Linked DNA regions of Homo sapiens. The protein of the gene in region 5 interacts with the protein of the main gene of each other region in a pairwise test. Each region holds a gene or a part of one and is shown on either strand. Other genes may lie near its edges.

Region 1 (3,215 bases), on a different chromosome or scaffold from region 5:
CCTCTCAGTAATTTTTTTTTTTTGAGACAGAGTCTAACTCTGTCGCCAGGCTGGAGTGCAGTGGTGCAATCTCGGCTCACTGCAACCTCTGCCTCCTGGGTGTAAGCGATTCTCCTGCCTCAGCCTCCCGAGTAGCTGGGACTACAGGCGCATGCCACCATGCCCAGCTAATTTTTGTATTTTCAGTAGAGATGACGTTTCACCATGTTGGCCAGGATGGTCTCGATCTCTCGACCTCGTGATCTGCCCACCTCAGCTTCCCAAAGTGCTGGGATTACAGGTGTGAGCCACTGACCTTGCAATAATTTTCAGTCAGTCTTTATACATTAAGACTACCTTGCTTCGTTTGAGACAGGGTCTTGCTCTGTCACCCAGGCTGGCGTGCAGTGTCACAATCATAGCTTATGGTGGCCTTGAACTCCTGGACACAAGTGATCCTCCTGCCTCAGCCTCTCAAAGCACTGGGATTACAGACGTGAGCCACCACACCTAGCAACACTACCTTTTGATATGTTGCAAATATTTTTTCTGAATTGGGCAGGAATCTTTTACACAATTTAATTCCTTACAAGTAGAGAAGTAAGAACATTAACTCTGGAGCTGGACTATTGGGTTCAAAACCTGACTGACAACTTTCTATAAAAAAGCTGACACTTTCAGCTATAAAACTCTGGCAAGTTATGTTATTTAACTGGTGTCTGTTACATGTCCACATATGAGAAAAACAGTAACCGCCTCCTGAGGTTTTTGTGAGGACCAAATAATTTTTATTCACATACATCTAGTTCATCTACCTAAAGTGTTCAGAACAATGTTCAGCACATATTAAGCTTGATATAACTGTTACCTATGATGATGACGATGATGATGATAATGATAACTGTACAGTCACTGTCTTTCTGAAGTTGTTTGGTGATCAAGAATGTGTTTAGAACTATCTCTTTATTAGACAAAGTCATAAACCAAAAATTTCCAACTTCCTGTACATGTTGAAAGCTTTAAATAAGGATCCTTGGATACAAAATATGGTCCACATGGCTGAAAATTAATTCTATGACACAATATTATTCTAAAGTCATCCTTATTTTGAAAGCCTAAAGATTTTCTTTTATGGCTATAAAAATACCACCAAGCTAGACATTTTAATTCTGTTGAGATATACAAATAGAATTACCACAGCAGCCTACACCTTCTATGATTTCTAAACACTTAAACATCAATGGTTTTGGGAAGATGCTGTTGTCCTTCAAAGTTCATTAAAAGTTCAGATGCCTTTTGTGAAAGCCCAACTTTTCTTCTACCTGCTAAATTGTCTTTTCAGAAGTCTTGCCGGATGTTTTCTTTGTTTGCCTCTCCATGTTGCTGCTTAATTTGATAGATTTCATTTTCTAGCTGAACAATAGTCCGTTCAATCTCATAATTCTTACTGACCAGGGATACCCAACTAGAATGGGGGGGAAGAAAAGAAAAAAATTACTCAATGTAAAACTTCTCTTAGAAGATTTTATTTTAAATGTATACACATGTTCACCCAGAGCTATAACACTAACCTTCACTTTTTTTTTTTTTTTGAGACGGAGTCTCGCTCTTGTTGCCCAGGCTGGAGAACAATGGCGCAACCTCAGCTCACTGCAACCTCCGCCTCCCGGGTTCAAGGGATTCTCCTGACTCAGCCTCCCGAGTAGCTGGATTACAGGCACACGCCACCACAGCTGGCTACTTTTTTGTATTTTTAGTAGAGATGGGGTTTCACCACGTTGGCCAGGCTGGTCTCAAACTCCTGACCCCAGGTGATCCACCCACCTCGGTCTCCTAATGTGCTGGGATTACAGGCATGAGCTACCATGCCTGGCCTAACCTTCACTTTCAACTTTCCATTAAAAAAAAATCAAGGCACAATTGTGGAAAAGTAGGTAAAGGGTACATGGAATCTCTCTGTATTCTTTTTTTTTTTTTTTTTTTTTTTTCCAGAGACAGGGTCTTGCTCTGTTGCCTAGGCTGAAATGCAGTGGTGTGATCACAGCTCACTAGCCTGGAACTCCTGAGCTCAAGCAATCCTCCAACCTCAGCCTCCTGAAGAGCTTAGACTACAGGTGCATGCCATCATGCCTGGCTCATTTAAAAGCATTTTTTTGTAGAGACAGGGTCTCGTTATGTTGCCCAGGCTGGCTTGAACTCCTGGCTTCAAGCAATCCTCCTACCTTGGCCTACCAAGGCACTAGGATTACAATGTGAGTCACCACACCTGGCTCTCTGTATTATTTCTTACAATTGCATGTGAATCTATAATTATCTAAAAATAAAAGTTTAATAAAAAAGCAAATTAGAAACAGATGAGAGAACTTGCAAACCAGAAGAAAGAGGAAAGAGTGATGAAGATAGTATTTAATCAACAAAAAGGAAAGAGGCAATAGTTTATTAAATTGAGGAAAAAGCGTGAAAGGGTACCAACGAGACTGGTAAGACGTACATGGAGACGGTGGAACAAGAATGACTTGAGTAATGAAGGGAGAAAGGGAATGGCCAAGCAAAAAGGAAGAGAGAAATGACACAAATATTCAAGATTATATTGTATAAAGGTATACATGTGTGTATGTAAAAGAACATTTTTAAAAATGCATAAACCTGAGGTACAAAAAAATTACCAAGTATGAAATCTCCCTCCCTACAAGATTTTATAAAATAATTTTTTTCCTTTTTTTTTTTTTAAAGACTAGGTCTTGCTCTGTTGCCCAGGCTGGAGTGCAGTGGTGTGATTATGACTCACTGCAGCTTCAACCTTCCAGGTTAAGCAATCCTCCTGCCTCAGCCTCCAGAGTAGCTGGGACTACAGACATGTGCCACCGTGCCTATTTTTTTTTTTTTTCCGTTTAAAAGGAGAATAAAGGTAGAGTTCTATTCAAGGCCAAAAATACTAGACTAAAAACAGGGTATTCTAAGACCAGAATCCTTTAGCAATGGTTCAATTTAGCAAAGGATCCTTCGCCAATGGTTCAATTCTCGTTTATAGTTCTCTTTAACACCTTATAAAGAGGCAGAGACGGGGAAGGGTGAATTCAGAAAATAGCATTTCTTTGTTACCTGTGGCATCCCATTTGAATGCTATTTGAATCATATTATTGAATCGACCTTAGAAAGGGCTAAACAATTTAAAAGATGATGGAATTATAGATACTCACTTTGACTCCATTTCTCTCAATTTAGATCCAGCTGTG
Region 2 (4,347 bases), on a different chromosome or scaffold from region 5:
CATCAGCACATTCTCAAGCAACATCCCAAAACTACTGAATTGGAAACTCTAGGGATGGGGCCTAGAAATGAATGTTTAAACAACCCCTGCAGATGATTCTGATGCACATGAATGTTTGAGAACCGCTGGTTTAAGATAAGCTTTAGATGCCCTAAAATACACCTGAGAGTGTTTATAGAGAATCTACTAATGAATTCATGGAGGAGACAATTTATTTCCATAACATAAACCTGCTTCTTTTTTATGTTTTGTTTTTAACACATAATTGTAAGCCTACTTCTTTTTAAACATACAAACGTGCCTTCTAGTTTGTGGTGAAATAAAAAGGATTATTTATTTGCTTTCACTTCTTTGGATTTTAGAGAATACTATCTTGGTAAGTACAGTCTCCAAAAGTAGCTCAATAGTCCTGTAGACATGGTAAGTTTTTTTTAAAAAAGAATGTACAACTTTAATATTAATCAAAAAAATACAAATTAAAATAGCAATGAGATATCATTTCTCAACTAAAAAACTGGCAAAGTTCAAAAAGAATAATGTGCATCAATAAGGAGGGTATAAGGGGGAAAATAAAACACACACTCCAAGTAGAAAGATAAAGTACCAGAATCTTTCTGGTAACACAAATCAGAAGCCTTAAAAATGAGTATATCTTTGACTCAGCAATCCCATTTCTAGGGATATATCTTAGAAATAATTAATGATATATGCAACAATGAACATATAAAGATGCTAAATATCATTTATAATTTTAAAATTAAAAATCTTAACTTTGAGGGAATTGTAAAGTCAATCAGTGTGCCCATATGACAGAACATAATAAAAATCAATCAGTTCAAGATTTTTTCCAGTTTTTAAAAGGAAGATTTATTTAACAAGTTTCACTTAGTACAATACATCTAAATGGAAATCACAATACAAGGAAAGATTTAAACCAAAGCCTCAGATTTTCATACAAACGACACGACCAAACTTCTAAAGTATTGGTATTACATCTTAAAATTGTCCCGTATCCTTAAAAAAAAAAAAAGTGTACACTCACGTGCCTTACAGGATATTAAACCAAAAAGCTAGAATTAACAAACATGCCAAATGTTTTCACTTTGAATCGTAGACACAGCTCCTATATTTGAGTTTTACAGAAAGGCATGTTTCTCAACATGCATCCGAAGTTTTCAATGTATTTGTGGTATAAGAGCAACATTTAACATAAGTGAAACTGCATTAACCTAAATACGCTTACTGCTTAGGTACACTCCTACAACATAACTAACTTGAGGAAAGCTAAAAATTGTTTTAACAGTTATGGTCAATACTGAACTTTGTTATTATGTCCTAGATGAATGTTTCAGTGTTCAAAATTACTGAGCTTGAAGTTTTAAAATAATCTCAACTTCCACTTTACAGTAAGCATGAATCACAAGCCTGTAATGCAAAACTGTTAAACTTAACTCGTTTTCTTAAAAAAGGAGAAAGAAAGATAAAGAAAGAGAAGCTGACCAAGAGTGATCAGAATCAATTATATTTCCCATTTACCAATCATACTGGATATACTAAACATCCCTCCCATTCTATTCAACTCCCACAAATGTACAGCTTTTATATCTGGAGTAGCTATTTAGTGCTCCTTCTCTACCTAAGCAAGGTTTGACTGATAGTCACTGGAGTTTTCCTGCAGAACTTGGTCATATCCACTCATACTGCTCTGACCACCATAACCACCTCCATAACCACCACTCAGCTGCTGGCTAGCAGGACCTCCATAACTAGACTGGTTGGATAAGCCCATCCCTCCCATCATTTGGCTACCATAAGCGCCACCACTTGCCCCTGCTGTAGAATTCAAAAAAAGTTCTACATAGCTGTGATCGTAAGCACCCCCACTTGTTCCTGCAGTAGAATTTAAGAAGAGCTCCACATATCTGTGTTGCATATTAGCTTTGTCTTTTGCCATAGCTGCCACAGCATCTTCATGAGTAGCAAATTCAACATCTGCCTCACCGGTAACTCTGCCATCGGGTCCAATTTCAATATGTACTCTCATGGGATTAAGAGGTGAGAAGAAATTATAAATATCATTCTCAGTGGCTCTGTAAGGTAACCCCCTCATGTGTACACAGTGCCCTGTGGTGCTCTGGAAACTGGACCCACCATCTCCGTATCTATGATCAGACATTCCTGAAAAACAGTAATTGAGGTCTCTTCCAAATCTATCAGACCCAAAGCCATATCCATCATTATAGCCACCATAGTCATCATAGCCTCCATACCCTCCACCATAGGCACCACGCCTCATCCTTTCAAACCCAGCTCCTCTGCCAATGCTATTATACCCTCTGCCAGCCCCCGGCCTATCATAGGGACCTGGCCGCTGCATAGCCATGAGCTTTCGAGGGGGATCATAGTGGGTTCGAACTTCAGCTCGGCTACTCTTGAAGATCTCAATGTACCTGTGCCCTATTCTTTCCTTGTGTTTCTTTAAGGCCTTCTCAGCTATCTCCTGTGAAGCAAACTGCACAAAGGCTTCCCCTGTGCTTCGCCCCTGAAAGTCCACTGGCAGTGTCATCCCATTTGGCACAATTTCCAACCCTGAAAAGAACTGAACAATCTCTTCCTTGCTACAGCCAAATGGGAGTCCTCTAAGCCGGACGAAGCCATCGTTGGCAGTATCAGGGCTATTCGGACCTGTATGCTTCAACACCCAATCCATTTCAACACTGTTAGACTTGAATACTTCAACGTATCTGTGTCCCATGGTTTCTCTGTCCTTCTTCAAAGCCAATTTCACTTCCTCTTCAGATTCAAGTTCAACAAATGCTTCACCACTTGGTCTGCCTTCTCTGGTGTAGATGAAACGAATACCTGATGTGCCATTTTGGATCTTGCAATCAGAGAAGAAGCGCATCACTTCATCGGCTGAGCAGGACCAGGGTAGGCCCCTGACCTTCACCACGAACCCCTCCCTGCCTTCCGTGCTCAGCATCATGGTGATTGTTGGGCTCTTGGTGGCAAGTTTGGCTCAATGCAATTTTGGTGTAGCTGAAAAAAAAAAAAAGAAGACTACTGTCATGGAAAAATGCTCGTGATATAGTAAGAGAAAAAAGCAAACTATTAATAGAAAATTCAATTATGCTGACAGCTTTTCTGTAAGACGTCTGTATAAACAGAGAGTTCACCAAATTTTTAACTCATTCATTTTTTAGCAGTTATTTATTCAATGCCTATTACGTGTTAGATACCATTAAAAATTAACAGCAATCGGCCGGGTGCGGTGGCTCACGCCTGTAATCCCAGCACTTTGGGAGGCTGAGGTGGGTGTATCACCTGAGGTCAGCAGTTCGAGACCAGCCTGGTCAACATGGTGAAACCCCGTCTCTACTAAAAATACAAAAAATTGGCTGGGCGTGGTGGCAGGTGCCTGTAATCCCAGCTACTCGGGAGGCTGAGGCAGGAAAATCGCTTTTATGTACCCAGGAGGTGGAGGTGAGCCAAGATCACGCCACTGCACTCCAGCCTCAGCGACCAGAGCAAAACTCCGTCTCAAAAAAAAAAAAAAAAAAAAAAAAAAAATTAACAGCAACAAATCAGTGGGAGATGTCAACAAATAAAAGATGGCTATATCTGAATATATAAACATAAAAAACTTCACTAGATCAAAAGATTAAACAACAATTAAAACACAAACAAAACACAGGTTATGTAAGTTCTTTATATAATATCTTCATTATATAAAAATGTATGCAAATCAATAAAATCAGGGAAATATTTGGGCTCCAGAGATAAATGAAAAAAAGACATTATTGGGAATTCACACATTCATTTTAGAAACATTTTTTAGTTGCCATGTCCAATATTCGGCTCTGGCATACAAGAATCAATAAGCCCAGAATGGGCTTATGGTCCTACAGGAGCACCGAATGTCATTATTAAAGATGTAAATGCAAATATACATTATACTTGCCATGACCCTCTGAGTGGAGTGTAAGCATAGTATCAAAGAGGGACTAGTTGATCAGTTCTATTGGTTGGAGGCCAAATGGTTAAATGAAACAGACTAATCTGCCCAGGGATCCATAAACATTTTTTTTTCTTAATTATGATGAAGCACAAATAGGAGAGGGAAAAGCAAGTGAAAAGACTGGCAAGGCATAGATCAGATCCCAAAGACTTTGATATACAAACACTAAGCGCCTTTTAAGACTTTTAAACCGGGGAGTATGTAGGGTGACTTCACCAAAACTCTTTCAGACAGATCACCCTGGCAACAGCGTGGCACTCAAACAGAAGGGGGTCGACGTGGAACTAGGGAGATTAGTTAGAACTTGTCTCATAAATATATGTTAAAGG
Region 3 (4,435 bases), on a different chromosome or scaffold from region 5:
TGGCAACATCAGGAAGTTACCTTATATGGTCTAAAAACGGGGAACTCATAAATAATCTACACTTTGTTTAGCATATAATTAAGAAATAACCATAAAAATGGGCAACAAGCAGCCCTCAGGGCTGCCCTGCCTATGGAGCAGCCATTCTTTATTTGTTTACTTTCTTAATAAACTTGCTTTCACATCACTCTGTGAACTCGCCCTGAATTCCTTCTTGTGTGAGATCCAAGAACCCTCTCTTGGGGTCTGGATTGGGACCCCTTTCTGGTAACAGAGACAGGCTTGTTATGAGGCTGAAATGAATTAATATTGTCAAAGGCTTAGAATAGTGCCTGGCACATGGTATATACAGTGGAAGTGCCTATTAAATAATTAACCTCTCAAAATGTCTCCAAGCCTCCCAAGATTCACTTGGTTATTGTATTGTAAGTAATGCAAACAAGAAACACATTCAGCTGGCATCTGAATCTCTGAAGTGAGTGAATCATGATGAATACAACTGATTAATAAAATTACCATTCGTTTGGCATTTTATATTTGCAAAGACAGGCCTAGTTAACCAGAATAATCCTTGTTGATTTTTCCAGTGCTCTTTCAGCCAGGATTTTCCAGTGTGTTGACTTTCAGTCTTCTTTGATTATCGTTTTATGGCTATTTCAAGACCACAATTAGCACACCATTATTGTGTGGAAAAGAAAGAGAAAGAAGTTAAAATGAAAAACTATTAGGTTTTCTTTCCACTAGCCACTCATACTAAAGGTTAGTGAGGGAAGAATATGAAATTACTTTCAAGAATAAAATTAGAATTGTCTTTGAGTTTACTTTAAATATTGAAATGTAGTTATAATCCTTTATCTTTCCTGCAGGAAGGTGTCAGGCAGGAACAAGGGTCAATAAAGTACTATTTGTTAAATAGTACTTAGAGAAACATGAAGTTGTCAAAGTTGTTTGAACCAGAGTGACTCTGTCTTGGACAGGGGCTGGGTAAAATGGGGCTGAGACCTACTGGGCTGCATTCCCAGGAGGTTAGGCATTCTTAGTCACAGGATGATAGGAGGTCAGCAAAAGACACAGGGTCACAAAGACCTTGGTGATAAAACAGGAAGTGGTAAAGAAGCTGGCCCAAACCCACCAAAACCAAGATGGCGATGGAAGTGACCTCTGGTCATCCTCACTACTCATTATACACTAATTATAATGCATTAGCATGTTAAAAGACACTCCCACCAGCACCATGACAGTTTACAGATGCCAGATGCCATGGTGATGTCCGGAAGTCACCCTATATAGTCTGAAAAGGGGAGGAACCCTCAGTTCCAGGAACTGCCCATCCCTTTCCTGGAAAACTCACGAATAATCCACTCCTTGTTTAGCATATAATCCAGAAGTAACTATAGGTTACTCAACTGAGCAGCCCATGCTGCTGTTCTGCCTATGGAGTAGCCATTCTTTATTCCTTTACTTTCTTAATAAACTTGCTTTCCTTTTACTCTATGGATTGACCTCGAATTCTTTCTTGTGCAAGATCCAAGAACCCCCTCTTGGGGTCTGGGTCAGGACCTCTTTCCAGTAACGAAGTAACCATCTGCTATCCAGAAATGTCCTGCTGACCCATTAGTCACCCACTGTCCACCTAAGGGAGTGGCCAAGATTGAGTGGTCTCTAACTTCCTCCATGGCAGGAAGGAGGACAGAGGGTTTGATGGGTACCTCCTCATGATGAAAAGAGGGTTCTGAGGACAGTTTCCTTAGCCAGTGTTGGGGGAGAAAGAAATAGGGGTCACATATGTCTCAGGAGTAGCACCAGCTACTCTGTGGCCAAGTTATCTCAGGATAAAGAGCTTGTGCTCTGTCAACTTTGGCCATCTTATTGCTATTAAACTGGATCATGGAGGAATTCATTGCATCTGTTTTGCAGGTAAGTTCCATCAGTGGTTTGGAACTTTTGCTGGCAGATCTAGAGTGGTGGAAAATTTTCCCCCTCACAAATTCCGTGAGAAGAAGGGGAAGAAAAGGAATGAGCAGGGTAGCTGTGTGGGGCATTGGGCAGCCTTAGGAGTGAAGTGGTGGGAGCTTCCCCTGATAACGGAAATGAGTGACTGAGGAAAATGTCCCAGTCAGTCGAGGTTTATTAAGTCAGCTTTAGGGCATGTCCCTGAAAAGCAATGAGCCACAGACACATCTGTGGCTGTTTTTACAAAGAGGCTTTCAGGAGGTTGGTATTTATACATTTCCTTAAAGTAGGGAGGCAGGTAGGGAGAGGGGCAGGTAGGCCGTAGAGGAATGTTTCCATCCTTGTGAGACTTTAACTAGTGCCCAGTTAAATTTACATTTTACATATGATAAGGTGAATGTTTAAAGAGAAAATGGGAGTAAAGAAAAGAATCAATTATGCAGGCCTCTCTGAGTAGGTGGAGGAATGACTGATCTTGTCTTTATTCTGTACATTGGGAAATAAGCTTGCAATCAACATTATCAGTGTGGAATCAGCAGACTTTAGTTTTAGAAGCTAAGCTTAGATTGTAGACCTAAAATTCTTGTCTACAGGAGGCCAGCAAAGAATTTACTTATGAATGACCTGCAGGGGTGGTCCTTTGTAGATAACTGAGGCATGATGTATAATGCTTGTAACAGCTATTCATCTGGAAGAGGGTGTTGCATGACTCAACCTCCAGGCTTAGTCTTCCCTTTTGCATAAGGATTCTGGGGGTCCTGAGATTTTTAAATTTCCTTTCCCTTTACACCCTCATGTACATCTGAGAGTGAAATCTCTTCTTCTTCTCTTCCCCTAAATTGAGTGCTATATGCCCATGGGAAAAAGCATCACATATTCAATTAAAAGCAGCTCAGAATGGGTGTCAAAGGAGCCTGAAATGGGTGCATTGAGGTGTTCCAGTTAACCAGAGAAGGCTCAGTGCTGGTGTGTTCCTGCTGGCAGTAGCAGAAGGGAAGTGCTATGTGACGCTCCTGAAATCTAATTGCTCCAGGTGCATCAACACAGGTGCTCCATTATGCTGATGCATTTTCTTAATGTGGGTCTTTATTTCCTCTGGGTTTTGAAATTGCCTTTTGCAAAATTTTAACCCCCTTCTTTGAAGTAAGAAGTAAAAGGGCTTGTGTTTTACCACCTCTGGGCATGGAGGAGTTAACTCTTTGACAGAGACCTCAGGAAGGGTGGAAATCAGCAGAGAGAGAGTTAGGGGCCTGCTGCTGGGAAACTTTCTTCCTTCTCATTCTTCTCTTCAACATTCTGCCTCTATGGCAGGAGTCCCATACTTGAGTATTAGTAGTGATGATAATATTATGAATACTGAACTAGTATTATTGATTAGTATTACTAATACTAATAATATTACTAATTACTAGGCACATCCAGGAAGAACGCAAGCCACAGACACATCATTACTACTATGAGTAGTAATTAGTAGTTACTAATAGGCATGACACCTGTTTTGAATGAAGTAGAAGAGAAGTGAAGGTCTCTAGAAAAATAAGTTTTCACTTAAAGACATCTGTGAAGATTTCTTACCGAAAACCATCAGCGGGAGCTCAAGCCAGATGTTAGTGAGCCGGTAGACCAGGAATGGCGTGATGATGCCACCAATGTCACACATTGAGGAACAGATGTGGACGCCAAGATTCCTAGAATGCAGGAAACTGATTTAACTTGTTAACTTATCACAGTGCAGTAGTTATCTCCCATCCACCCCTGAATAAACACTTCCTCAAATAATTAAAATGTTCAAGAGCTATAGTGTACACTGCTCAGGTGACGGGTGCACCAAAATCTCAGAAATCACCACTGAAGAACTTATTCATACAACCATATACCACCTGTTTCCCAGAAACCTATTGAAATAAAAAAAAAACACCAAAAATAAAATGTTCAAGAGTTTAAAAAAACATTCACGTTATTTTCAATGCACAATATTTTATATATATATATATATACATAATTCCATTCATATTCTGTCATTCTTGTTTTGTATAAACCTTAAATTTTTTTTTAATGATGGGAGGAGCAATTGTTTCTTTTTACTTCCATCACCTGGCTTCCCTAAGCTGTTTCTATGGACCTGTTTGTGCTGTTCCACAACAATCTCCCCTGTAGCCATTGGGTAATCCCTGTCTTGCAATTCAATTTTCTGTTCTCACCATGGCCTCTGTATTTTACCCCAGCCTGTAAGTGTGAGAGGTGAACTGCTGGGCCTGGCTGGACCTTTACGTGTTCTCACCTTCCCTTACACTGTGTTTTGAAGGTAAGATATCCTTTGTCTGCACTTGTGGTGGTTCCAGCCAATGAACAAATGTCTCACCCACCCTCGTCATTCTAAGGAAAATGCACTCACCTAATGAATGTGGGGTACAGCTCAGCATTGACCAGGCAGACTATCTCATAGGCCATTGTGATCCCCATTCTTCCCAAGCATGAGATA
Region 4 (4,435 bases), on a different chromosome or scaffold from region 5:
TTGGTAACTTTTCTTCTGATTTTCATACATTTCCTTTAATATGCATGTATTTCTTTTTATAAATGGAAAAACATATATAAAAGAAACATGCATTTGTAACTATTACTATATAAGAGAAAAAACCATATGGATGATAGAAAAATAATGGAATATGAAAATTTGATCTATGTAAACATACTGAAAATTTCTATGGAGACTTCTCTAAGATTAAGATCCTAGTTTGCCTGCGATAGTTCTGGGTCATGCCTGTTCTCTTGGCATAATTATTAGTCCTTTCTGTTTCAGCCTCAAAAGTGTCCCAGGTTGGATGTTAAATTATATGGCCAGCCTACTTAAGATACTTTTAGAGAGATTTAAAACATGCTTAAGTACCCTACTTAAGATATCTTTAGAGGTTTTTAATACACGGCATTTAATACAAACTTTATTTAGCTTCTACCCATTCTCAGAGACTTCATGGAAGTTTGCATGCAATTACTATTTGTAATTAAAGTTATTAAAAGAGGATTTCTTATGAGAAAATGATGAAGATGAGGTCATCAATCTCTCAGTAGTTTCCTTTATTCCTGTAAAGAATTCCCTAGTGAGAAAACCCCAAATAACTTGAGGAAGTATTAGGTTGGTGCAAAAGTAATTGCTGTTTTTGCCATTACTTTTTGCAATCACTTTTGCACCAACCTAACAGATAAAGTGACTGTTTGTGGGAGTGAGCGGGTGTGGATTTTCCGTCTGTTTATAACTTTGTGTGAGGAAACACCAGTTTTAAATTAAGGACTTCTTAGGAGCTGTCATTGTTTAACCTGAACATCTGAGTTGTATTACCATTCCTCTTAAGTCAATCAGGAAATATAGAAACAGTTGATGAAAGCTTGCTAACACTGTGCTTACCTGTTTTGAAAACAGTGAACTCTTGTTCTGATTAACGTTTTGCTTTATCAGGAAAACCAGACCTTTTTGGTAATGTTTAACAACTACGACATTTACCCCCTAGACATGAAAGACATATACTTGGAAGTTGTTTAATTATTTGTATGTGCCACTTTCTTCCATAATTTGTTTTCCTGCAGATGGAACTCCCAAAATTATTTCTGCCTTTAGTGAAAAGGTGGTGAGTCCAGCAGAGCCGGTTTCCCTTATGTGCAACGTGAAGGGAACACCTTTGCCCACGATCACGTGGACCCTGGACGATGACCCGATTCTCAAGGGTGGCAGTCACCGCATCAGCCAGATGATCACGTCGGAGGGGAACGTGGTCAGCTACCTGAACATCTCCAGCTCCCAGGTCCGGGACGGGGGAGTCTACCGCTGCACTGCCAACAACTCGGCGGGAGTCGTCCTGTACCAGGCTCGAATAAACGTAAGAGGTGCTTGTCAAATCAGCTCCTCAAAAAAACACACATAACTCATTATAGTGGAGAAGAAGATTTCTGCATGCACCGAGCTGGGTCTTGGAATGCCAGAGCGGATTAACTGTTGCTTCCCATTTCCTACCCTCTCCTTCCTACTCAGGAATGGCACTGACTGGGTTAATGTTGGAAATGGCATTTTGGTTTCTGTAGTCAGCTTGTTCTTTTTTACTCTAGATCTGTTCACCTGATGTTTCCTTTCCTGGTTTATGCTCTGCATGCCCTTTCCCTTCTCCTTCTCTTCGGTTCTTCCACATTCATGGTAAACCTTCATGTACATGGTATTAAACTTACATTCATGCTGCAACGTGATGTAACCTCCATTGTCGTCCTAGATTTTACAGAGAGAGTTAAACAATTGATCAATTGCTGCCAGTGTGTTCACCAAAAGTGCGTGATTGTCCAGTATAGACTAGTTACTTTCTATTAATTAAATTGCCTTTTATCTTGTAATTTTTAATTCAAAACATTTTCATAGAAGTAGCAGATAAAGTGTTTCACAGTTATACATTTGAATTTAAGAAAAGGAAAGAAAAACCTTTGTTGTAGAAAATGCCACATGCAAAAATATTTGTTTAACTGAAAAAGATGTGCTTACATGAATATAATCTACATTTTTAACTCAAGGAAAAGTGTACCCATTTCCCTACATGAGATGTACCCTTAAATTATTTTCAAGAGTTTCTTTGTGTCTCTCCAGGGCCTGCAAGCATTCGACCAATGAAAAACATCACAGCAATAGCAGGACGGGACACATACATTCACTGTCGTGTGATTGGCTATCCGTATTACTCCATTAAATGGTACAAGAACTCTAACCTGCTTCCTTTCAACCACCGCCAAGTGGCATTTGAGAACAATGGAACTCTTAAACTTTCAGATGTGCAAAAGGAAGTGGACGAGGGGGAGTACACGTGCAACGTGTTGGTTCAACCACAACTCTCCACCAGCCAGAGCGTCCACGTGACCGTGAAAGGTAAGCCCTGTTCTCCTGGTTCCCACACAACTCATTCCATAGCCCGACTACTTCCCAGACCAATGATTTGAAGTCGGGTAATCCAAGATCTGCTTATTTAGAGCAGGATAATTGTACAGGCTGAAGAATGACAGGGAACATGAGATGTCCTCTTTACTACTGACTGAATCTTCACAGGAACTTTAGTTGATCTGATTTTCTCTCCAGGTGGAATTTTGGCTTGGTTTTCCAGAGGGCATGTGTTGTTAACAATACAACAGAAAAAAAAGGAGCACATCATTAGCTTCATTATCTAGTCATCTCTCAGATAATTTTTAAATAAATAACCTTCTTTTCCTAAAACCTCCTAAAAGCAAGGTCTCTTAGAACTTCACTGGAAGGGATTTTCTGTATTGGATGAGGATTTCAAACAAACGTCTTATCTTCTGTAGATGAGCAGGTCAAAGCAACAACATAGAAATTATATGTTTAAAGGATGCCACAGAACGTTTTCCTCATTAAATTATTCTTTGCATCATGACATGGACTGTCATGGAATCTACCTGTCAGGATGATCTTTAGAGATCCTGCAATTTGAATTGACTACAATCTCCTTACCAGAAAAAAACAATAAGGTGATCAGACTCATCCAAGGATACGCAGACTTTTAGTGGCAGAGCCTCAGAAAGACTCATTTCTTCTATTCTACAAGTCAGTTTCCTGAGCTGAATATGAAATAAAATTGTTTTAATTATGTAAGGAATCTACCTGAGGTGGGTCCTAGGAATAGAACTAATATGTTATAAAACTATTTCCGAAACCTGTGGGTGTTGCTTCTAGCCACATTGAGCTGCCTGTCTGAGGTGTCCAAGTTCTCTCTCCAGGAACCAATAAGTGGCTTTTAGTTGCCCTTGTTACAAAGTTGCATAGGTTTCCTGTGGTCTTCCCCAAGCTTCTTTTCCCACCAACCCTGTGAGTTTTACTTTTGTGAGAACGCATACAGACACACACACATGGAAATAATAATATGTGTATACTATTATTACGGGGCATATATATTGCATTACATTATATATTATAGAATATGTATTGTGCATTGTATATTAGATATGCCTGCACATAATTATAAATCGGTTTTTAATAACCATATGTCTTGAGAATTTCCTCAAATCACTAGATATTCTTGGTAAACCAGGCTGCATAAAGGTTCATTTGGTGGTTGTGTTTATTTATTTAATCCTCATTTACAGAACATCTGCTTCATGCCAGGCACTACTCTAGACACTGAGGAATACAACAATGAAAAAGGTCTGCAAGGTCCTTTCCTTCATTGACTCTCTTCTCAGTCAGGAGAGACAAACAATAAACAAATAAAACAAGTGAATAAACCAGAAAACACCTAATGGTACTCCATACTATGCAGAGAATTAAAACATGGCAGTATCTTAATGGTTCATTGCAATAGTCAGATGCCATATCAACACATTTTCTGTACTCTGTCATCTTAAAATTCATTGGTCTATCATACCCTTGGAAGGAATGTTTTACCCACACATGATTTTGTAACATAAAAAGTTGATCATTTGGAAATGATTGGTTCACTGTGTTACACAGATCTTCCAAATGTTGATACAATTTGTTATACAATATCAAAATATCACAACTACTAACATTACCATGATCTCATCAGAAAGTCTTCAAGTAAACTGTCAAGTTCATGCTGATGGATGCAAGTTTTCTAAAATTCTATTCTTTCTTGAAAGATTCAATTTTATTATTTATAATAAACACCATCAATTGTAATTGTAGGAGTGATGGGCTCATTTATCTGTAAGAAATTGTTTGACAAATAGAAAAGACCGCATAACCATCGTTTTTAGGTAGCCATTCTTTTAAGAAAGAAATGGAATTCCATGAAGAAAAGCAGCTGGTCGAATTTGCAACTCAAGCAAGCACAGACATACTCTGCTTGAAAATAGCCGTGCTGCTCAGGAGGTGGAGGAAACACTGTGCCTTCTTCCCATTTTATTACACAGGACATAGAACATTAAAAATAACGTGAGCTTTAGGGTAA
Region 5 (4,435 bases):
GGGATTACAGGCGTGAGCTACCGCACCCGGCCGCTTCATTCCATTTTAAAGCCCCAACAGCAGTTAAGTCAACTCAGGTACAATAGCTGATTTCAGAGGCAAAGCACATGCCTCAGTACCCTGCAAGGCTAGGAATCCAGGAAAGCCCTCACCTGAAAAAAATATGGATGCGATCAATGTATCTGCAGAAGAGACGGATGGGGTGGGCAGCCTCAGTGGCTATGTCCTGGAAACTGAGAAAGTCATTTGGCATCTGAGGGGGCCCAGCCATCTCACTGGCCCGGTGCAATCCCAATACAAGCAAATCCATCACCAGGCCATAATACTGCACGATGAATGAGGCAAACTGCAGGCCTCTGATGATCCCATATGAATTCGTATGGTTCATGTCCTAGAAAGAAAGAACTACAATTCTTAAGAATGTGAGCCATGCCCCAGGATTCTCCAGAGTTAACCTCTTTTGTTCTCCCCTCAGCAAATTCTACTTTTTTCCACTCCCGAGGCGGAGTTGTGCTCAGTCACCCAGGCTGAGAGTGCACTGGCGCAATCTCAGCTCACTGCAACCTCCACTTCCCGGGTTCAAGTGATTCTCCTGCCTCAGCCTCCCAAGTAGCTGGGATTACAGGCGCCCACCACCACACCCAACTAATTTTTGTATTTTTTTAAGTAGAGACGGGGTTTCACCATGTTGGCCAGACTGGTCTCGAACTCCTGACCTCGTGATCTGCCCGCCTCAGCCTCCCAAAGTGCTGGGATTACAGGCATGAGCCACCGCACCCAGCCTCCTCCTCAGCAAATTCTGAGTCAGTGGGCCAGACAAGCACTCCACACACAATTCCATGCTACTGCGCCTGAGACGCACCTTATAGTTGATGACGACGTTGTTCTTGGCTGTCATGTAGTCGGCTATGTTGTGGTCCACGATGAGGCGCAGCAGCCTGTTGAGCAGAGTCAAGTCGATCTTCTCATACATCTTCTCAAAGCGGGATTCCAGCATGACATTGCACTCGCCTTCACTCGTCTCCCACACGTCCTGCAGGTTATTGATGCCTGAGGAGTAGCAAGGCAGGTCTCCAGCAGGTTAGAAATCCTCTTGCAAGACTAGCCCCACAGGAACTATCATTACCTTCCATAACCAATCCCACTATGATTCCACGTATTCATTTGGATTGCTTTGACTATGGGCTTTTCCTCAGTTTAACACGAACACTACTTCCCTTTACTACCACGCATCAAGAGAGTAAACCAATCATGCTACCCAGATGAGATTTTTGACGTAGAACTAAATTCCTGCCCCGTTCCTCACAGGGCGATCTCATGAAAGTTCTACCTTGACACCACTTGTAAACAAGCAGCGGAGGTGGTTCTGTGTCTGCAGGCTTAATCCAGGGTGGGAACAGGCGGCGCTTGTCGGCTTCATACCACAGGTACTGGTCCAGGTAAGCATCAGTTATCTTCTCCAGGGGCTCAACATCATATACTGGAACGAGGTGGCTATACAGATCCATGAACTCAATGCCCACCTGTGGGACAAGGAGGCTGGTTCACACCAATCCACCAACTGCTACCTTTGGTAGAACCAAAGGCAACTGCTACCTTTGGTAGAACCAAAAAGAAAACTTGGGAGGCCTCACTCACCTCTTTGAAGGCTCTCTGTGTGAGGAGGTGACGCTTGATGCGGGACAGCGCCTCGTGGGGGTTATCGTAGGCCTGCTCGATCAGACCTAGCTCCTCCCTCTGAGACTGGTTCAACCGAGACTTCACACTGACAAAAGCAATGGGAAGGGTGAATGGGAAAACTAGGAGGAAGTAAAACCAGGAAAGACTGGGGCTACACCTTCTTTCTTTGGACTCTGAGGATGACGCCATTCCCTGCTGTCACCTTCCCAGCAGGAACCTATCTACCCTACTACTCACCTATAAGCTTCCTTGAGCCGCTCCAATGCCAAGATGAGCAACTTGGTGTCATGCTTATAGGAGAGTGGGGGGAATGGGATGGGTGAAAACCTGCGGCTTTCCAACCAATGCACTGTGGTGGTATATACTGCCACTGCTTCCTCCGCTGTGATGTAAGGCCCGTCCTGTAAGGTGGACATGAAATTAGCCTCCCGCTACAGCCCGATCCTGCCAGAACAAGGTTCAGTCACAACTCTACAGTCCTCCCTCTTGCCCACTCCCCCACCACTCACACCCAGCCCAGCCTACTCTGCCCAACCTTCAGGTAGTTGTGCTGCCGCTCCTGTTCTGCCTTCAGATAGAGCCGGGTGAGGCGGCCCAGATTCTTTTTACAAACAGTCTTGTCCACAGTGGCCCCTCGGCGGATCCGTTCTCGGTTGTAGTGGGCAGTGTTGGTCCACCAGTCAGCCTTGGCCTTCACGTATCGAAGGATCATATTCTCTATGGGCGTCGGCAGCCCAGGGACCTAAAAGTCCAAAAAGCACAATCAAGCCAGGATCCAGCCAGGCACTGTGGCACACATCTGTAGTCCCGGCTACTCAGGAGGCTAAGGAGGATCGCTTGAGCTCAGGAGCTTGAGGCCAGCCTAAGCAACATGGTGCTTCTTTTCCCTGTCTAAAAGGGAAAAGAAAAGAGATTGGAGCCAGATAGCCCCCTAATGATTCCCGAAGTGGTAATCCTACCCTAAAGACGGATGTTTACGCCTCCAAGGAAATAAAGAGACACCCACCTTCCAGGGAATGTTGGCTTTCCAGCAGCGCCAGGCTTCACTGAGGTGCTGCAGGATTGTCCGGGCCTTGTTCTGCTTGATCCCCTCAGGCATCATGTCCAGAATATCATGCATCACAGCTGCCCGCAGCTCAAGGTCAAAATGTGACTCCACTCGCTGCTTTGTTACTGTCTTTGCCACCCCCTTTGAGTGTCGACCTGGAAGTAGAGTGTCCCAAGGGGATTACAAGGAAGATTCCTTGCTTTCAATAAGGGTCTCTACCTTCATGCTCCTCACTCATTATGGTTATTAATAAAATTAGGTATTAACAAAGCGTCCCTGTGCCCAGCATATGCAAAAAGACGAGCTACCTTAAACATTCACAACTATGCTTCTGAGGAATTTCCACTCCTGCAAATGCATGACTGCCTCTCAAGGCCCCAGAAGGAAGCCCAAGAAATAGAATACTAGGTCAGACTCATTTCAGAACTGGACCTAAAGGCAATCCAGTAGGAAGAGTGCTCATACAAGAGCAGGGAACAGACTCAAACAGGGGCAGGTACTTTTGAAGCAATAACAGGAGAAGTTGGACACAGAGAAAACCACTCACCTTCAAACTGCCGGGCCAGGAGGTTGCCAAGCCATCGCTCTAATAAAGGGGTAATGCCACGCATGAAAAAGAGCCAGACTCGCCAACCGGCAGCCCAGAAGCCACAGCCAGGACCCTTCCCTACAGGGCCCTACGATCCCAAGCAGAAGTTAAGAATACAAGTTAGCAATGCATTTAAACAACAATAGAAACCTGGGCAGAGGTGGGGCATATATGTATAATATACATACAGAGGAATGTAGGTATGGCAGTAGAGGGGTAAAAAGAAAAAAAAACTCTGGGACCTCAACATCTAAAACAAAAGGGTAAATGAGAAACCTTAAGGCAAAAACCAGGAACTAAGATCGCCCATGTGAATTTAAAGGAGCAGTAAGGACACAGTCATAGCTGCTCTCCAAATAGGTCCCTGGAAAGAGCCCTGTCTAAATGTATACATGAAAAAAGATCTGAGAAAGTTAAGTCCAGTGAGGCTGGGCACGGTGACTCACGCTGGTAATCCCAGTACTTTGGGAGGCCGAGGAGTGTGGATCACCTGAGGTCAGGAGTTCAAGACCAGCCTGGCCAATACAGTGAAACCCCATCTCTACTAAAATTTCAAAAACTAGCCAGGCATGGTGGTGCGCGCCTGTAGTCCCAGCTACTTGGGAGGCTGAAGCAGGAGAATCACTTCAACCCGGGAGGCGGAGGCTGTGGTGAGCCAAGATCGTGCCATTGTACTCCAGCTGGGGCAACAGAGAAAGACTCAGTTTCAAAACAAAACAAAAAAAAAATTGCCAGGCGTGGTGGCGGGCACCTGTAATCCCAGCTACTCGGGAGGCTGAGGCAGGAGAATTGCTTGAACTCAGGAGGCGGAGGTTGCAGTGAGCCAAGATCGTGCCATTGCACACCAGCCCAAGAGACAAGAGTAAGACTCTGTCTCAAAAAAAAGAAAGTCAGTAAAGTCAAGGTCTCACCGTGTTGAAACGATAATAGATGAGATGCTTCAGGTCCTTGCACATGCGAATCTGTCGCATCAGCTTGTATTTGTATCGATACATGCCCGTCAACTGCCCAACATGGGCAAATATATACTGCAATCCATCTGCCAGCTGCAATACAATTGCCCCATCAGACCTGGAGCTTAAACCAGCTCCACGGTCAGCACAGGCTTCCTCCAGCGT
Region 6 (4,435 bases), on a different chromosome or scaffold from region 5:
TTGAGAATTGCTGTAGCTGTTAGAAGTGGTACATTTGTAGTGAAAGAAAAGAATACATAAAAGATATAAGCTCCTGGATGGCATAGGTCTGTGGGAATTAGGATATAAGCTCTTTTCCTTACAGTGAGGCAACAGACCCATCCAGGCCAAACTGCCTCACTATTTTCTCTGTGGCCTTTGTGTGGACTAGGGGCAGCTCACAGTCCCACTTTTGCAGGGACATCTCCCTGAGTGACTTTAACACTGATTCAGGAAGGCTTTAGTGCTAGCCCAAAGAACCCTGATTTAAGGGTCAATTTCCTTGGAAGAGAGGAAAACCAGCCAAGCTGTCGTAGGAAATCTTCTTCTTTTACGTGAGGGTGGAGTTGCACCACTTCTTTTCAGAGAGTACTAGGCAGGACTTACGATGTATGACTCAAAGAGCAGAAAAAGACCTCACAAACCCTAACACCTCTCCTTCTAGCCCAGAAATTCACCAACTTGCTGGACAAGGCTGCCTTAATTAACTTCATTAGCAGAACCCCAACCATCAAGCCACTTACCAGATCAGCTTCTCCTCAGGGACCCCATAGGGAGGTGCTGCAGGACCAAGGGTTCCCAAGGAGGTGGGATGGGGTGGGTGGCTGGGAGGCAGGGCCAGCTTGCAGGTATTAAGACTGGCAGACCAAGGCGGGCAGGCAGCAGTGTTGTGGGAAGGGGATCTGAGGAAGCTTCAGAGGGGACAGTCCTTGCTGCCAGCTTCCCCGTGTCAGCCAAAACTGCCTACTTACTATACGAAGAGATTCACAGTGTCATCAGACCAACTTGTCCCTCACATGGACATAAATTTCTCTGTGTATGAATATGGTATGTGTAAATATTTTAGGTGAACCCTGTTAATATTGCATGACCTGTTTTATGCCTTAGCTGACTCTGGCTTGTAGTTTTTGACAGATTGAAAGTATTTTGTGTATAAGGCCACTGAAAAGAGAGAGACACACAAGGTTCTGAGTTAATCTTGTGACTTTCTTTAAAATACTGGCATTTTTTTTTCAAGACCATTTATTGGTTGGATATAATTTAGATAATTTGGGGAAGAGGTTTTAAATCATTTCATAATAACAATTTGTTTTCCAAAATGGCCAGGATATAAATTAATCTAAAACACCTCATGCTGTTTTCTATAAGGGAAATTTAGGTTGGCTGATACTTTTATATTACACAGAAAGAGTATTGAGTATCTATGGTTGTTCCCCATGTATAAGGGAAGGGAAAAGATCTAGGACCATTTTAGAGCCACCTGATAGCCATCTGTTTTAAAAGTTCAGTAAATCCGTGGGCAAGTGTAACCGTTTTCTCTAATTCTGATTGCAGGTGCTTCAGTTTAATGAAGTGGGAGCCAATGCAGTTACCCCCATGACTCCAGAGAACTTTACCAGCTGTGGGTTCATGCAGCAGATCCAGAAGGGTAGTTATCCTGATGCGATTTTGCAGGTATCTGACTTACTGGTCCAAATTTCTTTTGTGGTTTATTTTTGCAATCTTCCTGTCTTAAAGCCACAGTGTCAGACTGGGAAGGAAGCGAATATACCCTCCCCCATTCACAGAAAGAAAACTAAGACTCAGAGTCATTAAGAAAAACATGTCCTAAGATGATACCCATAACGAGAGACGAGCCAGGACAGAATCCAGACTTCATGAGTTTTAGGCCAAGCCTATTTACTTCTAAATTCTCTCATGCCTCTCTGTCATTGGTGAGGTATGTGTAATTTATCATAAATCCACAGTAGAGACTCCTAGAATACACGTGTATGGATAAGGATTTCCAGAGGAGAGAGGGTAGGGACTGACAATTGATTGAGAAATGGCAGAAGGCTGGGCCCAATGATTGCATGAGAAATCACTGACCTTCAGGTAACTTTCCTTCTATCTATCTAATCTATCATCTATCATTGATCTCTCTCATCTATCTTACCTATCATACATCTATCAATCCTATCTATCTATATATTTTATGAATCATCTATTTATCATCTATCTTCTCTGTCATCTGTCTATCTTATCTATTTATCAATCAGCTATCTCGGGGAGTAACACCTTTCCTCAGTACTCCATTTCCTTAAATGTCAGCTATCCAGTTAAATTATAAAAACTGAGTATAGACTGCTCCTGTTGGCAACCAACTTCCACAGTCATGCTTATGAGGTAGATTATGAAGAGGTATCTCCCAAAGCTCTCTTCCTGGGCACTCTGAAGCTCCTTCTACCCATTGCCCAGGGAATTATGGGCTAGAGGAGGTGGACAGGATCCTGATCATGTGGAGATTCCGCCAGGTGTTCTGTGGTACCTGGCAGTCCATCAGGAGGGCTCTGTCCCCTGCCCTAGGACAGGCTGCTGCTGTGACCAAGCCCTGTGTCTGACATGGTGCTTACAAACTTCAGTTTGAGAACTGAAATAACCATTCACTTTTGTGGTTTTCTAAAACCCATGTTTTCCACTGCATAGTTTGCCCCATAAAATAGGTATCTAGAGAAGCTATATGAACTTTGTAAGATCATTACTAAGGCAACATTTCCTCCCTGCCAGCTTTACTGAGGTATAATGGACAAATAAAAATTGTACATGTTCAAGATGTACAGTGTGATGACTTGCTATACCTATACATTGTGAAATGATTACAGTCAAATTAATGAGCACATCCATCACTACAATTACCCACCATTTGTATGTATGTGTGTATGTATAGTGAGGACACTTAAAAAATATATTCTTCACAAATTTCAAGTAAACAGTTTTATTAACTATAACTATTAATGAACACAATCTTATTAACTATAGTCATTATACTGTACATTAGATCCCCAGAACTTATCCATCTTATAAATACAACAAAAATTCCTTAGAGACTTTGAAGTTTAGGAAACTGAGAAGGGGCCTTTCTTCTAGGCTGTTGGTCACCTGGTTAAATCCAATCCATAGACAGAGCAAAATTGGAAAGAAATTAAAATTCACCTTATTAGTTTTAATGTACCACATCCTTATCGAAATGATTTTCTCAAAGATTCCTCTAATGTACCAAAAATAAAGTATGTATTAATATAGCATTTCATGATTGTATTCAAAAACTATTACCATGGCTTAAGAACTATCTTGTTTAGTAGTTCTGTGTTATATATAAAGAATTCCTTCTTTCTTTTCAAGGCACAAGCTGCAGATAAAATCCATTCATCCTTCCGCTCTCTCAGCTCTGCAATCAATGCATCCACAGGGAATTATTTACTGGAAAGTGTCAATAAGCTGTTTGGTGAGAAGTCTGCGAGCTTCCGGGAAGTAAGTGAAACCTGTAATTGAAATGGCTGGATCCCAAACAAGTAATGAAGTCACTTTCAAAGCAGTTCTCTACAATTCAACAGTTCATAAAAGCAGAGTTGGAATTCCACACCAGCTCCCTAGGGCTGGCCTTGCGTAACAGCTGCCCTTCCTGTACCCTCTGGGGCTTCCTCCTCTTCCCATTGCAAATGTCCCAATCTCAGAGTCATAAATCAGGAAAACAAATGCAACTGTTTTCCAGAGACACTATCCCCCAAGTCAAACCTCTTTCCTTTTATTCTGTCTCTATAATGCAAGGAGTACAAGAGGGTGGATAGAGTTGGGGAGTAAGCGTGGACAAAGGGGTCTGCACTCTTTCCCCCTTCAGCACCTGCCTTCCATAGCCAACCTCCACTCCCACCCTACCCCAGGTCTCCTAATTTCAATGGGAAGACCATAATTCACCATTATGCCATGGCTTGTTTGGTATGTATTTTATGTAGCCTTTGTCATTTTCTTGCTTTAAAGGAATATATTCGACTCTGTCAGAAATATTACTCCTCAGAACCCCAGGCAGTAGACTTCCTAGAATGTGCAGAAGAAGCTAGAAAAAAGATTAATTCCTGGGTCAAGACTCAAACCAAAGGTAAATCCAAGAAAATATTTTATTTACTTCTTTCCAGTTAGAAAACTCTGATCTATCTTTTTCCATCCATGAACTTAGTTAGCCCTCACCCCTTTACAATTTGTCCAACTGCAGTTACTTTGGTGGATGTGAATTTATTCCTGATTAGCTCAGTGGTGTTTTAACTGAGAAGAAATAATTGAGGCCTACTAATAGAAGACATATGTTTAGTACTTAAATATTTGATTTTGGATATTGCTTGAGGATAGAATATGAAAGGAGGCAGAAGCTTTCAAAATAGGAAATATCAGCATTGAAATAATTGTGAGTCTATGCCCACTGTGGACAAAAAGAAAACAAGGCTTGACCCTGAGCTTAGTAAATGGTGTGAGCTATAAAGAATACAGGCAGTGGAGGAGGGAAGAATCATAAAATTATTTTCACTCTTTCTTCTCTTTCACCATTCAAAGCCAATCCATTGTCAAGTTTTTTTGGTCTCTGCTTCATCCCTCCTTGATTATC
Region 7 (4,435 bases), on a different chromosome or scaffold from region 5:
TTGAAATACAGATAAATCTGGCTCCGGCATCCATATCTTGACCAGGATGCTATCCTGCCTTCACTGGTCACAGAGCCTGCAGCCCACCCATGAAGCCAGAGTCTCTGGCGAAAACAGCACGTCTCACCTGAGCAAAAAATCCTTTCCGACTCCGTCTGGCAATTAGCAGTCTCTTCCACAAAAGGGCCACAAACTGTTGCTGTGTAAGTTTCCAGCCTTTCACCTGGTAGGACCCTTTGCCATCCATCCCACTGAGCAAGTCTGTCTCTCTGGATTCTGCAAGAAGCCAACACTGAAGGTCACCTATTATCTTAGGTGTTTTCGGCATTGCCATGCTCCTTCTTCTGGTGTCTTCAACAACTATCTTGAAGGCATGTGTCTGAAGCTAGAAGTTTCTCAGAAGTAAAGGGCTTTCATGACAAAGCTATGTCCAAGGAAAAGCTTGACTCAAAATGTCTAACAGTAGCAGTCTCTGCCTTTCAGTCCTTGTCTGATAAGTACAGAAAAGAAAGGTGTCTTGAGACAACTGAAAAGAGGTGTTCATGCGTAACCAGGTGTTACAGCCAGCCATTCGGATGAATCAAGTCATCAATTTCTTATAGACTACTCTATGAAACAGGCCATGTACGTAGCTTGACATATTTGAGAATACACAATGGCAATTAGCATCTCAGCTTCTCACCCTATTATATTTTGGTAAAACGTGGACACATTTCAAATGATCTAAGTACTGATACTGTATGAAGTCAGGCAGTTATATATAATGTAAGAGCCATACACTCTTTGAGCAGGGGTGAGAGAACTGGAAAGTTTTCTGTTCCTAAAAATTTTCTAGAAATCCTTGTCCTAAACTAATGATACCTAACTGATGTGCTTTTACATCTTAACAATATTTGTTTGATGTCTTAGCTCTCCTCTCCATCTCAGTTAAACACACAAAGACACACTCATCCAAAATATCTAATTCTTTTTTTTTCTTTTTTGAGATGGAGTTTTCACTCTTGTTGCCCAGTCTGGAGTGCAATGGCGCAACCGTGGCTGACTGCAACCTCTGCCTCCTGGGTTCAAGCGATTCTCCTGCCTCAGCCTCCCAAGTAGCTGGGATGACAGGCATGTGCCACCACACTCGGCTAATTTTTTGTATTTAGTAGAGACGGGGTTTCACCTTGTTGGTCAGACTGGTCTCAAACTCCTGACCTCAGGTGATCTACCCACCTCAGCCTCTCAAAGCGCTGGGATTACTGGCATGAGCCACCATGCCCAGCCTCAAATATCTAAGTCTTAGGGTACAATTAACTCTAACAGCAAATTCCCCTTTCTGACTCTTTCAAAATCACTCATCTACTCGAATGAATATTTGTTCAACAATTAAACACCTAATGTATACAAGAAACTAGGACCCCGCAGAAAAGATAATAAATACATGGGTTCAGAGGATTGAGGCACCATCTTTATGTCTTTAAAGGAAGTGATATGGATAGGCTCTTTCAGGTTTGATCACATGCACGATGCTGCAAAGAACAAGTGGCTTTTACCATTTCCTCACTTCTCTTTGGACTCTGTAGGGATCTATCACCTTGGCTAAAGGCCATCCAAAGAAAACAGGTGAGAGCATGAGAGAGAATTTCACATTCAAACAGTAGGACACTGTTTGATCTTGCCCTAACAGACCTGGGTCTATGTCAGAATCATTTGGATCAGCAGCATCATCTTCAGTGAACGGGCGAAGACAGCTCTGCTTGTCCCCGAAGGCCCGCCTGTTTCGTCTTGCTGGCAAGGTACCATCTGAAGGCACAAGGAAAGAATCCCATACTTTATTTTATTTACAACAAAACAAACCTTCCCCATCTGCAACAAACCTACACTCTACAAATGAGAATGCAATAGAACAATTCAAAGGGAAAGGAACAATACTCGTGCACTGAGAAAGCCAGCAGAAGGCACTATCTTAAGTGTGCCATTCTCCCTCAAGGCAGTTACCTGAGGTCTCAGCATCCACCCCACTCTCTTCGGCCACCTTGAGGAATATCTGGAAAATGAGAGAGATGAGAACATTATAAGCACCAACATTACGAGAGTAGTCACCACTGCCACGATTATTATATTACTGAGTGGCATGTTAGCCCCGTAAGACAGAGAAAGTAGAAGCCACATTTCTTAATAACACTTTCTCAGAGTTACCTGGGAGAGAAGCCGTTTTTGCCAGAGAACATTTCCTCAGTGGTGAGAGCTATCAAGCTAGACAATCATTTTCAAATTAAAGTTATGGCTGAGCGCTGTGGCTCAGGCCTATAATCCCAGCACTTTGGGAGGCCGAGGCGGGCAGATCACCTGAGGTCTGGAGCTCGAGACCAGCCTGACCAACATGGATAAAACCCATCTCTACTAAAAATACAAAATTAGCTGGGCGTGGTAGCACATGCTTGTAATCTCAGCTACTTGGGAGGCTGAGGCAGGAGAATCGCTTGAACCTGGGAGGTGGAGGTTGCAGTGAGCCAAAATCGCACCACTGCACTCCAGCTTGGGCAATAAGAGCAAAACTCCAGTCTCATCAAAAATAAAAAAAAATTTAAAAAAAGCTATGACAGACACTGCGCAGAAGAAATTTATTCTGAACCTACAGGGAATGAGTCAAGTGGCTTCTTTCAGGACTGTGGCTCTAAATCTTTGAGTAGGCTAGTACTATGATAAGTTATCCAAGACAGAATGAGCAGGAGGAAATAGAGCACTAGAAATATGATGGCAGCAATTCAAACATCAGAAGAGAATCTGAATGAGCGCAATCATTTCCAAACTCTAGTCTATAGACCACTGTGTCCAAAGTATGCAATAGAAATACAGACTTCAAGGCCTCACCTCCAGAAATTCTGATTCACAGGCCCTGAAGCCAAACCTTAGTATGTTTATTTTTAATAATATCCCCAGGTGATTCTGCTGCACTGTCAAGCTTGGAGACCACTTGGCCAGACAGCTTTTATATCCCCTTCAGCCTTCAAGGTCTGTGATGTTGTATCTCTAAGGGGAGGCATTACATGGATAAAGAGAGGATGGACTTTGAAGCCCCAAACCCCTGATTCTGAATCTCATGTCAGCATTCCTGAGTGTTCATTTTTTCATCTTTTTTTGAGAATTAAATGAGGTCACAGTGATTAAAAAAAAATCAAAAAACAAAAAACAAATCTCAGCACCTGGCACAAGTAGACTATCCATCCATAAACGTTTGTCATTTCCTATGTATGAGAATCCAGTTGATACCTGGCTGTGACACAGTCACACCAGAGAATTGCTCCTGATTCTGATTCAGTAGGTCTGAGCTGGGCCCAAGTTGCTGAATTTCTAACAAGTTCCCAAGTGATCCTGATGCCGCTGTTCCTCACACTGTACTTAAGTAAAGAGGCTCATTAAAGGGTAAATAAGTGCATAGGAGTTTAAGGTTGGGATGTAAATGTGTTAGGTACCACTGGTTTCAACACACAAATCTCAGGCATGTACTGTGGTACAGAGGAAAACACTTCTTTCCTGCTATCTCCCACTACCATCTTAAATGGCTCACTGGGGCCAACATTAATCAGATGTCGATGACCTAAAAACTCAATGACTAACTCCATGATAATCCTGCTCCCAATGCAGGCTACTGGTCTGGCCTTAGGACATTTGGCCTTGCTATATATTCCGACAGTCAGCCACTTAACTTACTTCTTCCAGGGTCGTCTCTGAGATGCCATAACTAGAAATGCCCAGGTCTGAGAGCCGGTCATCAATCTCATGAAAGAGTTCCACAAAGGCTCCCTCCTTAGCAGCTTCATATGGCAGCACATAGGTCAGCTCATGCCCTATGTCTTCCACCAGCCGGGCTTCAGACACATGCTTCCTGATGAGGTTGGAGATAGCAGAGACATCTGCAGGGACCAGAATGCAAAGATGGCTCAATCAACTCAGAGGGGCTTCGGAGTGAGGGCTGGCCATCCCCCACCCTCTCATCAGAGGCCTGCCGCTCATACACCACACCTGTTCCAGGTGTTTAGGTCATTCCACATGTTCATCTCTGGTCTGAGGGTTGGGGGCAAAGGAAAGGACTATGTCTTATTCACCTTTGTATCACCAAAGCCAGGCACATTATAGGTACTCAGTGTAGAATGGGTGGACAGCTGGATGGGTGGATGGGTGAATGGGAGGATGGGAGGATGGAAGGATGGGTGGGTGGGTGGGTGGATGGGTGAATGGATAACTGAGGCTCAAAGTCTGGTGTCTATTGCCTAAGCTCTGGGATTCTTCAAAAGAAAACTTGAGTAAAGGAATCTTAAAAGATTCTTCACCCTTTCCTATGCTTATAAAGTAGGTTCCCTCATTTACCTAAATAAAGGGTTAATCTAACAGTCCATGGAAGCAGAAGCCTTCCTGGGAAAAGCCAGCCATTAGGACTAGGCAGAGATAG

Evidence for each region.
Region 1: the proteins of PRPF8 (region 5) and BCAS2 interact in binary tests that used the Homo sapiens proteins (3 or more experiments, as listed by UniProt).
Region 2: the proteins of PRPF8 (region 5) and HNRNPH2 interact in a two-hybrid assay, tested with the Homo sapiens proteins (one large-scale study listed by BioGRID and IntAct).
Region 3: the proteins of PRPF8 (region 5) and SLC22A2 interact in a protein complementation assay, tested with the Homo sapiens proteins (one large-scale study listed by BioGRID).
Region 4: the proteins of PRPF8 (region 5) and DSCAM interact in a two-hybrid assay, tested with the Homo sapiens proteins (one large-scale study listed by BioGRID and IntAct).
Region 6: the proteins of PRPF8 (region 5) and SERPINB2 interact in a two-hybrid assay, tested with the Homo sapiens proteins (one study listed by BioGRID).
Region 7: the proteins of PRPF8 (region 5) and ABCA1 interact in a two-hybrid assay, tested with the Homo sapiens proteins (one study listed by BioGRID).

What each region holds. Positions count from the first base shown.
Region 1 is NC_000001.11:114,566,813-114,570,027, forward strand, and holds the end of BCAS2 (pre-mRNA-splicing factor SPF27), read right to left. Parts: coding exon 3,180-3,215; intron 1,445-3,179; coding exon 1,318-1,444; 3' UTR 745-1,317; downstream 1-744. UniProt on the Homo sapiens protein: Required for pre-mRNA splicing as component of the activated spliceosome. Component of the PRP19-CDC5L complex that forms an integral part of the spliceosome and is required for activating pre-mRNA splicing.
Region 2 is NC_000023.11:101,410,628-101,414,974, reverse strand, and holds the end of HNRNPH2 (heterogeneous nuclear ribonucleoprotein H2), read right to left. Parts: intron 3,040-4,347; coding exon of another isoform or gene 2,987-3,039; coding exon 1,637-2,986; 3' UTR 842-1,636; downstream 1-841. Other genes in the region: RPL36A-HNRNPH2 protein, read right to left, coding at 2,983-3,039. UniProt on the Homo sapiens protein: This protein is a component of the heterogeneous nuclear ribonucleoprotein (hnRNP) complexes which provide the substrate for the processing events that pre-mRNAs undergo before becoming functional, translatable mRNAs in the cytoplasm. Binds poly(RG).
Region 3 is NC_000006.12:160,237,946-160,242,380, forward strand, and holds part of SLC22A2 (solute carrier family 22 member 2), read right to left. Parts: coding exon 4,349-4,435; intron 3,642-4,348; coding exon 3,529-3,641; intron 1-3,528. UniProt on the Homo sapiens protein: Electrogenic voltage-dependent transporter that mediates the transport of a variety of organic cations such as endogenous bioactive amines, cationic drugs and xenobiotics. Functions as a Na(+)-independent, bidirectional uniporter.
Region 4 is NC_000021.9:40,336,048-40,340,482, reverse strand, and holds part of DSCAM (cell adhesion molecule DSCAM isoform CHD2-42 precursor), read left to right. Parts: intron 1-1,067; coding exon 1,068-1,364; intron 1,365-2,106; coding exon 2,107-2,382; intron 2,383-4,435. UniProt on the Homo sapiens protein: Cell adhesion molecule that plays a role in neuronal self-avoidance. Promotes repulsion between specific neuronal processes of either the same cell or the same subtype of cells.
Region 5 is NC_000017.11:1,674,290-1,678,724, forward strand, and holds part of PRPF8 (pre-mRNA-processing-splicing factor 8), read right to left. Parts: intron 4,364-4,435; coding exon 4,229-4,363; intron 3,406-4,228; coding exon 3,276-3,405; intron 2,884-3,275; coding exon 2,687-2,883; intron 2,423-2,686; coding exon 2,216-2,422; intron 2,082-2,215; coding exon 1,918-2,081; intron 1,766-1,917; coding exon 1,639-1,765; intron 1,524-1,638; coding exon 1,331-1,523; intron 1,051-1,330; coding exon 863-1,050; intron 392-862; coding exon 153-391; intron 1-152. UniProt on the Homo sapiens protein: Plays a role in pre-mRNA splicing as core component of precatalytic, catalytic and postcatalytic spliceosomal complexes, both of the predominant U2-type spliceosome and the minor U12-type spliceosome.
Region 6 is NC_000018.10:63,893,911-63,898,345, forward strand, and holds part of SERPINB2 (plasminogen activator inhibitor 2), read left to right. Parts: intron 1-542; exon of another isoform or gene 543-626; intron 627-1,353; coding exon 1,354-1,473; intron 1,474-3,180; coding exon 3,181-3,309; intron 3,310-3,816; coding exon 3,817-3,934; intron 3,935-4,435. UniProt on the Homo sapiens protein: Inhibits urokinase-type plasminogen activator. The monocyte derived PAI-2 is distinct from the endothelial cell-derived PAI-1.
Region 7 is NC_000009.12:104,812,447-104,816,881, forward strand, and holds part of ABCA1 (phospholipid-transporting ATPase ABCA1), read right to left. Parts: intron 3,900-4,435; coding exon 3,697-3,899; intron 2,030-3,696; coding exon 1,981-2,029; intron 1,786-1,980; coding exon 1,672-1,785; intron 277-1,671; coding exon 128-276; intron 1-127. UniProt on the Homo sapiens protein: Catalyzes the translocation of specific phospholipids from the cytoplasmic to the extracellular/lumenal leaflet of membrane coupled to the hydrolysis of ATP.